2 separate regions of the Homo sapiens genome follow, and region 1 is linked to region 2. The links come from fine-mapping of genetic effects on gene expression. A gene starts in region 2. The other region holds a variant in brackets. All regions are shown on one strand. Distances are from middle to middle.

Region 1 (5,368 bases), 38 kb after region 2:
GGACCAGCCTGGGCAATGTAGCTTGACCCAAAACAGAAAAAATGGAAGAGAAGTCTATGCTATGTACGTTAACCAAACCCTCTTTCTCCCTTCTCCCCGCCCTCAGCATCCTTCGGAAAGCTCTGGACAAGATCGCGGAAATCAAGTCTCTGTTGGAAGAGAGGCGGATTGGTGAGTGGGAGAGAACATGCTGGGAGGTCCTTTGCTAGGACAAGAGGAGAGGCCCTGCGGGCAGCAGTCACCCTCCTGTGGGGGCCTGTGGCCACCACCTGCTGGCATCCTCCCATGGAGGCTCTGGCAGACTGGCTCTACCACTGAGAAGGGACAGGAGGTCATTCCCAGTGCCCAGAGGCAGGGGTTTCCCAGTTCTCCCTCAGCAGCCAGAGATCATCCCGCCCTGGCCCCTCATCTCCTGCCCCTTCTGGGGCCTGGGCCAGTCGCCCCCTCCTCTGCCATGGCCCATGCCCATCTGTTGCCCTGGCTGGTTTCTGCAGAGCCACACGCTGTGTGTCGTAAAGCCAGCCTTCCAGACCCCCTCAGCCTGCATTAGGCTCTCCTACCTGTCTGCCCTCCCAACAATCCCATGGTGGGCAGAATCTTGGCATGTCAGTGTCCCCACACAGCCATGCTGGTTCTGTGTGAAGTCAAGTGGGGTGTCCAGCTGTGCCTGAGGAGGTTGAAGGTGCACATTTAATTTTTTTTTTGGTTTTTTTAACTTTCTGTTGAATTACAATGTATATTAATAGAAGAAAAGTACACATAAGTGCAGAGTTCAATGAAATAGTCACTAACTGAACACACTTCTGTAACCAGCATTCAGATCAGCAAACACAGCCTGAACAGCACCTTGGAACCCGCTTTCTTTCTTCTGGTTCCTCCCCCTGGATCCCCGCTGTGCTGCCATCTCACCCAACTGTAGTTAAACCCAGCAGCCCCTATAGGTGCTGACACATGGCCGATGGGGTCACAGTCCTGCTGGGCCCTCGGGCTCACTCGGGAACTGGGGGCTCCCAGGTGCTCCTTCAACAGCTCAGTGCAGCATGCTCGGGGGTCAAGGCCGGCACCTATCCCTGGGGCCTCAGGCCTCCCTTCCTTCCCACAGCGGCCAAGATTGCCGGTCTCTACAATGACTCGGAGCCACCCCGGAAGACCATGCGCAGAGGGGTGCTGATGACCCTGCTGCAGCAGTCGGCCATGACCCTGCCCCTGTGGATCGGGAAGCCTGGTGACAAGTGAGGGCAGCAGCTGCGAGGGAGGGGCTGGTGCCCAGGGGCTGGGACTGACCCTTTGTTCCACTCACAGGCCCCCACCCCTCTGTGGGGCCATCCCTGCCTCAGGAGACTACGTGGCCAGACCTGGAGACAAGGTGGCTGCCCGGGTGAAGGCCGTGGATGGGGACGAGCAGTGGATCCTGGCCGAGGTGGTCAGTTACAGCCATGCCACCAACAAGTGAGTGACACCAACCCTGGGGCTGCTCTCTGGTCACCGAACTTGCCTGGGCTACGGGAGAAAAGCTCTGCAGAGGGTGCTCCCCAGAGGCTGGTTGTGCAGGGAGCACCAGGTCCTCCCCCATCCTCACTCCCCAACAGGTACTGCGCCCCTGGCTGCATCCAGCCTTTTCCTCCTTTTGTCTGCAGGTATGAGGTAGATGACATCGATGAAGAAGGCAAAGAGTGAGTGTCCAGGCCAGGGCAGGGCATGGAGCCTGGGGGCAGCCTAACAGCTGAGAAGGAGCATCCCCACCCGGCCACAGGTTGATATAAGCCCCTCTTCCCCCAGGAGACACACCCTGAGCCGGCGCCGTGTCATCCCGCTGCCCCAGTGGAAGGCCAACCCGGAGACGGACCCTGAGGCCTTGTTCCAGAAGGAGCAGCTCGTGCTGGCCCTGTATCCCCAGACTACCTGCTTCTACCGCGCCCTGATCCATGCGCCCCCACAGCGGGTAAAGCAGCCTCCAGGGGAGAGGCCATGGGTGATGTCAGGAACAGGCTGATCAGACAGACGAGGGGTCCTCTCCCCACTCCTTCCCTTTGTCCTCATCTCACAGGCTCCAAGCTGACAGGACCCACCAGCTGCCCTCCCTCTTCCACTCCAGCCCCAAAGGCCACCATCCCTTTGCCAGCCCTGGCAGCCTTGGCAAGCCCCGAGTCAGTGGCTTCCAGCCCCAGGAGAACCAGCTCCGAGATGGGAAGCTCCTGCCCTGAGCCCTGGGCTCCTACCGCCTTGTGCTCTTGGTGACATGGGACACAAGCCACCTGAGGCCAGGATCCCTGCCTGCCACCCTCTGGGTTGCCCTCAGTCCTCTCAACAAAGAGTCCTTGAAAGGCAGCAGACCCTCCAGCTATGACCCCACTAGGAAGGGAGTCAGCACCCCTACTCCTCCCTGCCTATTCCCTGCCTTGGGTCTCCAGCCACTGAGAAAAGAGCTCTGTAGCAGCAGGGACTGGGCCAAGACTTCTTGACCCCAGAGTGAAGGATGTTAGGAGTGGCTGAGAGTCCACGGCCCAGAGCCTCCTGTGGTCTAGGCTGGGGGAAGGGGGTGCCTGTCCTGGCCTGGGGGTCTCTGAGCAGCCCCTCCTGTCTGCCTGCCCCACAGCCCCAGGATGACTACTCGGTCCTGTTTGAAGACACCTCCTATGCAGATGGCTATTCCCCTCCCCTCAATGTGGCTCAGAG[A/G]TACGTGGTGGCTTGTAAGGAACCCAAGAAAAAGTGATGCCGCCTGGCAGACTCGCCATCCCCCAACGACACAGGGCAGGACAGCAGAGGACGTGCTGGGATTAAACACATTCCCCCTCTACTCGTCTCCTGGGTTTTACTTCTCCAGACCCTCTCCCCTCTCCAAACAGGGCAAGTTGAGGAGCTGGAGCGGGGAGGTGGCCGTATTTGGCCCCAGTGGGCGATCACTCTTTCAGCTCAGGGTTTCTCTTGGCTTGGAATAGAGACTCTGCATTGAACACAAATCATACTTTATTCTGGAGCCTCTTGGTCAGGCTTGATTCGCACACTCCCTCTGCAGTGACTCCAGGAACCCCTCTCACAGCTCAGAGCGGAAGCTGAGGCTGCAGCCTGCCATCTTCTTCGCATAGTCCGCATCGAAGCGCTCATTCTGCGCCACGGTGAAGGTGGTCTTCCAGTCCCCAGCCATGCCTGGGGGAGGAAGGCAGGGAGCAAAGCTGGAGTCTCATCCCAGGGGAGGCCCCGAGTGCCTATGGGGAGGCTCCAGCTGCTGCTCCCACCTGCTCCAAACCCCCGTGCTGGCCGGCACCTACCTTTCCTCATGAAGGGGGAGATGCTGTGGTCCATGAACTCCCGGCGGACGGTGGTGTAGTTGGTCATAGGGTTCTTCTTCATCTCCTTGAACGACGTGTGCTCAACCATGAGGTCCACAGTCTCCTCTGGCAGGGAGCGCCCCACAAACTCCAGGATCTTTTGAATCTCCCTTTTGGGGTTCTGAGCAGCAGAGGGCTCCTCAGTGGAGGCTTGGATTGCTGATTCAGGAAAATAAAAGGGGTCCACTTCTCTAACCTCAGAGGGGAACTGGCCACTTCCACTTCAAAACCCATAGAGCCAGCTCCTCGACCCCTGGGACCCCAGTCCCTGGGGCAAAATGAATTGCTGTCTGCCCTGTGATCCCATCATGAGCTGGGCTTGGCTCCTATGGGTAAGGACTGGGATGGTCTTCTTCCGTGCCTGTGGCCCTGGGTGGCATAACCATTGGCAGGGAGAAGCAATTGGAATAGATAGCTGATCTGTGGCAAGGGGCCGTGGTTCAGGCGTGTAATTCCCAAGACTTTGGGAGGCTGAGGCAGGCGGATCACCTGAGCTCAGGAGATGGAGACCAACCTGGCCAACATGGCACAACACAAAAATTAGCCAGGCATGGTAGTGTGCATCTGTAATCTCAGCTACTCAGGAGGCTGAGGCAGGAGAATCACTTGAACCTGGGAGGGGGGGTTACACTGAGCTGAGATCACACCACTGCATGCCATCCTGGACAACAGAGCAAGACTTTGTCTCAAAAAAAAAAGTAGCTGATCCATGGCCACCCGTGCAGCTGACTCAGGCACAGGAGATGAGAGCTGTGCCCAGCCTGCTGCCACATGGGGCTGCAGTGGGGCCTGGGCCAGGGAGTCAAGATGGGGAATCCGGGCCTGCTGGAGGGGCCGCCCAGGGAGGGTGGCTGGGTGGCCTTGGCAGGTCCCTGTGAAGTGCCTGCCCCCAGGTGTCACGTGGAGGGAAGCATCAAAGGCGGTCTCACCTCCTTCATGTCTTCATAGAAGAGGTAGAGAACAGGGTGGGTGCGGCTCAGCTCCCACCACTCTTGCACGTGCTGGTACCAGGACCCATAGGACACTGGAGAAGCGGGCAGGGAGTGCCGACACAGGGTTGCTGTGCGTTGTAGCCACCACCCCTTAGCTCCACACCTTCCTTCCTCCCATCAAGCCCACCTTCTCCAGCCATGAACTTCTCCAGGAAGCTTTCCCAGGTCCCAGGGTGAGGGTACACTTTGGCCATGTGGTAGAAGTGGTAGTAGGAAACCGCCACATCCTTTGCGTTGCGGGCAACATAGACCACCTGCAGGGGCAGAAGACTCAACCCCAGCACCATCACCACACAGCCTGCCCCAGGCCAGCTCATCTCTTGGTTTGGCAAAGGAGGAAGCTGAGGCTTAGAGGCTGACTTGTTTGAGATCTCACGGCACAGGTAGGGCCAAGTCAGGATCTGAACCCTGCTCAAAAGCCAAAGTCCTGCCTGGTCCCTGAGACCATCATATTCTATAGTAATATAATCTGCATCAATGCGTCACACCCCGATCTGGAGCAAGGCATGCTCCACCAGGCATGTTCCCACCACCACCAAATTTTGTGGGCCTGTGAGGACCCACCCTCTACCTTTCTTAGGTCTACCCGGAAGAGTCTCATGTTTTTGGTCATCAGAGCAAAAGGCAGACAGTCCCCCCCGTGGAAGATGAGACAAGTCTGGAGGAAGTGAGGCGACTCTCCCAGAAGAACAGGACCAAAGCTGGGCTGAGCCGGGGCCTCCTTCCCTGGATTCACATGCCCCACACCTGGACCTTTGCTTTTTTCTTTTTGTTGTGGTTTTTTTTTTTTTTTGGGGGGGGGGACTCTAGGTCTCAAAAAAAAGAGAAAAGAGAAAAAAGACCTTGGGCTTTCTTTTTTCCTGTTGCCCAGGTTGGAGTGCACTGGAGTGAGAATAGCTCACTGCAACGTTGACCTCCCAGGCTCAAGCAATCCTCCAACCTTAGACTTTTGAGTAGCTGGGACTATAGCGCTATGCCACCATGCCCTGCTGATTATTTGCATCTTTTATAGAGATGGAGTCTCCCCATGTTTCCTGGGCTGGTCTG
Region 2 (5,368 bases):
GGCCTCAAGTGATCCTCTAGCCTCAGCCTCCCAAAGCAGTGGGATTGTAGGCATGTGCCACTCTGGCCCGAATAGATGAGGGGAGATCATTTAAGATGGCATTGCTCAGTCTCACTAGTGGGCATACATCTCAGAGAAATCTTCATATAGACCGCAGGGGAATAAGCATGAGGTTGTTCACTGTGGCATTGTTTGTGGTAGCCAGTAGTAGTTGGAGGCAACTTACAGGTCCATCATAACTGAAATGTTGCTGCCCACTTCGAAATATTGCATGGTTGCTGTAAGTCATAGGTAAAGTGTGCCCACAATGACAGGTGTTGAAAGCAGAGGGCTGAGGCCTGGCGCGCTGGCTCACGCCTGTAATCCCAGGAAATTTGGGAGGCTGAGGTTAGTGGATCACCTGAGGTCAGGAGTTTGAGACCAGCCTGGCCAACATGGTGAAACCCCATCTCTACTAAAAATATAAAAAATTAGCTGGGCGTCGTGGCGCGCGTCTGCACTCCAGCCTGAGTGACAGAGTGAGACTCTGTCTCAAAAAAATTTTTAAAATAACAAATAAATAGAGAGGCCGTGCAGAGCCCAATGACGAAGTGTGTCATTAAGTAGAAATAAGTAACTCAACCTTAGCACCAGCGATTAAAAAACAGAGAACCTTTGCAGTTGTTTAGGGAAGATGTCCCTACTTTGGCCTAGGGTGGATGTGGTGGAGGTGAAAAGTAGGTGGATTGTGTTATATGAATGAATATGTGTAAAGGATTTTGAACAGTGCCCGGTGCATAGCAAGTGCCTAACAAATGTGTTTTTATATTGCAGACACGTGGTGGATTGAATGAGGGAGGGGAGGGAAAGGGTGATGTCAGGGATAACCCCCAGGTGCTGGCTCAGGACATTGTACTAAGTAGGAGGTGGGACATGAAAACTGAGTATAGATGATTCTTTTGAGAAATGTGGATGTGGAGAAGACAGAGCAATTCCTTACATGTGGACAACACTCTAAAACACTTTTTAAAAAGTTAATAAATACATGTTTATTGTAGAAAAATCAGAAATTAACGATAAAATTTTAAAACAGGGCAGAGACCAAAATAATTTAAAAAACAACTGTAAGCTCTACATCTCTCCTGATCAGTGACTAGGGTTGATTTTTTAAATTTATTTTATTTATTTATTTTTTGAGACAGAGTCTTGCTCTGTTGCCCAGACTGGAGTGCAGTGGCGCAATCTTGGCTCACTGCAACCTCCGCCTCCTGGGTTCAAGTGGTTCTTTCCTGCTTCAGCCTCCAGAGTAGCTGGGACTACAGGTGCGTGCCACCATGCCCAGCTAATTTTTGTATTTTTAGTAGAGACATGGTTTCATCATATTGGCTAGGCTGGTCTCAAACTCCTGACCTCGTGATCTGCCCACCTCGGCCTCCCAAAGTGCTGGGATTACAGGCGTGAGTCACCACGCCTGGCCTAGCTAGGGCTGATATTTAACAATCAGGAAAAAGAGCCCCTGAGACCTTTACAAATGCAAAATTTGCAAAATCCCTCAAAGCATAACCTTCATAAAAGGCAGTAAGTAGAACTGCAGCTGGGTGGATGGGCATGTCATTCACTGACCTGACGCCCACAGAAAGAACTGCAAGTGTGATGGAAGAAAATGATGCATTAATTTTGGGGTTAACATAGTTTCAGTGCTAACGCCTGAGATTCTCTAATAAACAGAAAAATACTGACGGGGCTGAGGTTGGTGGCTCATGCCTGTAATCCCAGCACTTTGGGAGGCTGAGGCAGGAGGATCGCTTGAGCCCAGGAACTCAAGACCAGCCTATGCAACATAGCAAGACCCCCATCTCTACCAAAAAAAATTTAAAAATCAGCAGAATGTGCTGGTGTGTGCTTGTAGTCCTAGCTACTCAGGAGCCCTGATGGCACCACTGCACTCCAACCTGGACAACAGAGCGAGACCCTGTCTCAAAGAGAAAAAAAAAGAAACATGTGATGGCCAGGCACTGTGCTAGGTACTAGGAATACACAGGTGAACACAAGATGATCCCAATCTCATAGGACTTGCAAGTTTATCAAATAATCAACAAATAATTACAGACATTTGTAGGTTATGTAAGAAACTTTAAGATACCAGGATGGCTTTCGATAAAATACCATTGAGGCTACATGTCCATTGCACGTCCATATCCTTAGTACTTTCCTGAGAAGATTCCCTAGAAGTGCGATTTCTGGGTCTAAAGATCTGCTTGTTTTTTGTTTGTTTGTTTTTTTGAGATGGAGTTTCCCTCTTGTCACCCAGGCTGGAGTGCAATGGTACAATCTCCAGTCACTACAACCTCCGCCTCCTGAATTCAAGCGATTCTCCAGCCTCAGCCTCCCCAGTACCTGGGATTACAGGCACCCGCCACCACGCCCGGCTGATTTTTGTATTTTTTAGTAGAGACGGGGTTTCACCATGTTGGCCGGGTTGGTTTCAAACTCCTGAACTCAGGTGATCCGCCCGCCTTAGCGTCCCAGTGTTGGGATTACAGGCGTGAGCCACCGCGCCCGGCCTGTTTTTAATTAATTTTTTAACAACAGACTTTTATTTTTTAGGGCATTTTTAGGTTCACAACAAAATTGAGCAGAAAGTACAGTTTTCATATTACCCCTGCGCCCACCCACCTCCAGCAAGCAGCAATCTGTTCGCTTTCAAGTTTTATTTATTTATTTATTTATTGCATTTTGTTTTAAATAGAGTCTGGGGAAATGGGAGAAAACGCTGAAAACGCACAAGCACTTTGGTTGGTTAAATTAGGGTTCCGCCAAGAGCCGGAGCGGTGTGCCAAGTGAAAACTACATTTCCCACGGGGCAGCGGGTCACGTCACAGAGGAACGACTACGCATGCGTGCAAGGTCCTCCGCGCGCGACTACGCTCATAAAAGGAAAAAAAAGCGTGTGCGGTTCTCGACGTGCCGCCAATCTTCGAACGCAGGTCTGTGATCATCCGCAGACTCCGAAAAAGGGTTCGAGGAACGCGCCTGCTCCCCTCGTCGCAGTTTCCAGCCCGACGAGCTTGTTTTGTCCCGGACTCGGTAGGTGGCGACGGGCCGTGGCCTGAGACCTCCGGCGAAACGCGGGAGCGAAGGGCTGAGTCCTCCCTCCGCGCCGCGGCTCCCGACCTCCCTGAGGCGGCGCTCTAGGGGCGGTGCGCACGCGCTCTGGGCGGGAGGGGGGCGGGGCTCGTGGGGGTGGGGGCGGGAGAGGAGGGCGGGGCCGGGGCTCGGGGAGGGCGGGCCCTGCGCCCGGCCGCTCGAGGTCTGCGCTTGCGTGCTTCCATCCCCGGCGAGGGTGGGAAACAGCGACACGCTGGGCTCGGCACGGACGCAGCTTCCAGGTGGGGTACTCGGACCCGGGTCACGAAGATGCGGACAGAGGATGGGCCCCGAACTCCAGCACTTATTTTATGATTTGCACAAAAATTTTGTATATATATATAGTTCTTAACAAGATACACTAACAGCTCGTCGTTTGCCCAGGAGGCTCAACCTCCCGCCTCGGCCTCCCAAAGTGTGGGGAGTATAGGCGTGAGCCCCCGCGCCCGGCCAAAAAATGCCCGTCTTAAGAACAACAAAACAGCCTCCTTCACCCTCGCTATCCTCCAGTTACCTCCTCCTCGGCTCCGGTTTGCAGCCAAAGGCCTTAGTCTACCCTCACTAATGCCTTTTCTCCTCCAAGTCTTGAACCCTTGAGCCTCTAGTCAGGCTTTGGTCTCCACCACTCCACTAAAAAGGCTTCTTGTCAAAGCCACCAGTGATCTCTAGGTGGCCAAATGCATTGTTAAGTTAGGTCTCAGTCCTGTTCAGCATTTGATGCTGTGGATCACTGCCCCTCCTTGAAACACTGTTTTCATTTGGCTTGCTGAACGTTCTCTTCCTTTGCCTCTGCTCTCTCTGGCTTCTCCTCTGCTGATTCTAACCTAGGCATCATCTCACATTTTTGTTTTTATTAGAGACACGTTCTCTGTTGCTCAGACTGGAGAACAGTGGTGTTATTACAGCTCACTGCAGCCTCAAACTCTTGGGCTTAAGCAGTCCTCCTAACCAAAGCCTCCCCAAATGCTGGAATTACAGGCATGAGCCACCGCAATCCCAGTTTCACATTTTAAATGTAAATACTGGCCAGGCGCGGTGGCTCATGCGTGTAATCCTAGCACTTTGGGAGGCCGAGGTGGGCAGACTGCCTGAGCTCAGGGGTTTGAGACCAGCCCGAGCAACGTGGTGAAATCCAGTCTCTTCTAAAAAAAAAAAAAAAAATTAAAAAATTAGCCGGGCGTGGTGGTGCACGCCTGTAATCCCAGCTACTTGGGAGGCTGAGGCACAATAATCACTTAAACCCAGGAGGTGGATGCTGCAGTGAGCCAAGATCGTGCCACTGCACTCTAGCCTGGGTGACAGAGCAAGACCCTGTCTCAAAAAAGAGTTCTAGAGGTGGAAGAAAATCCACATATAAGTGGACCTGCACAATTAAAACCTGCATTGTTTGAGGGTCAACTGTATAGCTATTTTAAAAGAGATTTATTGTGATGGATTGGGTGACACTATTATAGAGGCTGAGAAGTCCCGAGATTTGCCATCTGCAAGCTGGAAGCCCAGGAAAGCAAACCCTCAGGAAACTCACAGACACACTCTAAAGTGTTTCACCAGCTATCTGGGAATCCCCTAGCCCAATCAGTTTGACACATAAAGTTAACCATCACATTTCCCTAGCTTTGTTTTTCAGTTGCCTCAATCATCATTTTACTGGTGATACTTTGAGTGTTGTCATAATAGCCTAATGGTGGGTTGGCAGCTTCCACTTTTGTGATCTCTTTTACTATTGAATATGCTGAAGTCGTGACACAACTTGGAATTCAGAGGAAGAGCATAGGTTTTAGAACTTGCAGCCTTGCAGCCCCAGCTCAACTACCTATTTTTCCTGAGTTACCTAGCATAACCTATCTGAATTTCAGTTTCTTCACTATACTTACTATTCTGTTATCTATTTTATAGGATTGCTGTAAGGTTTAAATGAGAAACACTGGCATAAGTTGCAATACAGAGGCATGAAGGAAAAAAATTGTCTTCTTAATGTCTCTTTAACCAATTGATGAATATAGATTCTATTTATTTATTTATTTATTTTTGAGATGGAGTCTCGCTCTGTCACCCAGGCCGGAGTATAGTGGTGCAATGTCAACTCACTGCAACCTCTGCCTCCCGGGTTCAAGTGATTCTCCTGCCTCAGCCTCCTGAGTAGCTGGGATTACAAGCATGCACCACCATGCCTGGCTAATTTTTTGTTTGTTTGTTTGTTTGTTTTGAGACGGAGTTTCACTCTTTGTTGCCCAGGCTGGAT

Which allele goes with the higher level. Positions count from the first base shown, and alleles are read on the strand shown. Sizes are in standard deviations (SD) of each study's normalised expression.
For the expression in monocytes after R848 of the gene that starts at base 2,889 in region 2, allele A in region 1 goes with a higher level than allele G (large effect, 0.76 SD a copy in Quach 2016).

Evidence for each region.
Region 1: its variant is fine-mapped to the expression of SGF29 in monocytes after R848 (Quach 2016, PIP 0.95). The same link has a PIP of 0.9 or more in activated naive CD4 T cells.

Annotation. Positions count from the first base shown.
Region 1 is chr16:28,588,994-28,594,361 of GRCh38, forward strand. It overlaps SGF29 (SAGA complex associated factor 29), which reads left to right. Exons shown (of 10, transcript NM_138414.3): 5 at 107-171; 6 at 1,103-1,232; 7 at 1,303-1,449; 8 at 1,638-1,673; 9 at 1,780-1,942; 10 at 2,597-2,797. The coding sequence ends at 2,713. SULT1A2 (sulfotransferase family 1A member 2) reads right to left here. Exons shown (of 8, transcript NM_001054.4): 5 at 4,449-4,575; 6 at 4,259-4,353; 7 at 3,270-3,450; 8 at 2,950-3,147. The coding sequence ends at 3,035. Among named protein-coding and RNA genes, the nearest start is that of SULT1A2, 5.4 kb to the right of the region's middle. The variant A/G (reference allele first, on the strand shown) is at 2,677.
Region 2 is chr16:28,551,032-28,556,399 of GRCh38, forward strand. SGF29 (SAGA complex associated factor 29) reads left to right here and starts at 2,889. Exons shown (of 10, transcript NM_138414.3): 1 at 2,889-3,066. RefSeq lists an enhancer at 2,858-3,177 and a silencer at 3,198-3,317.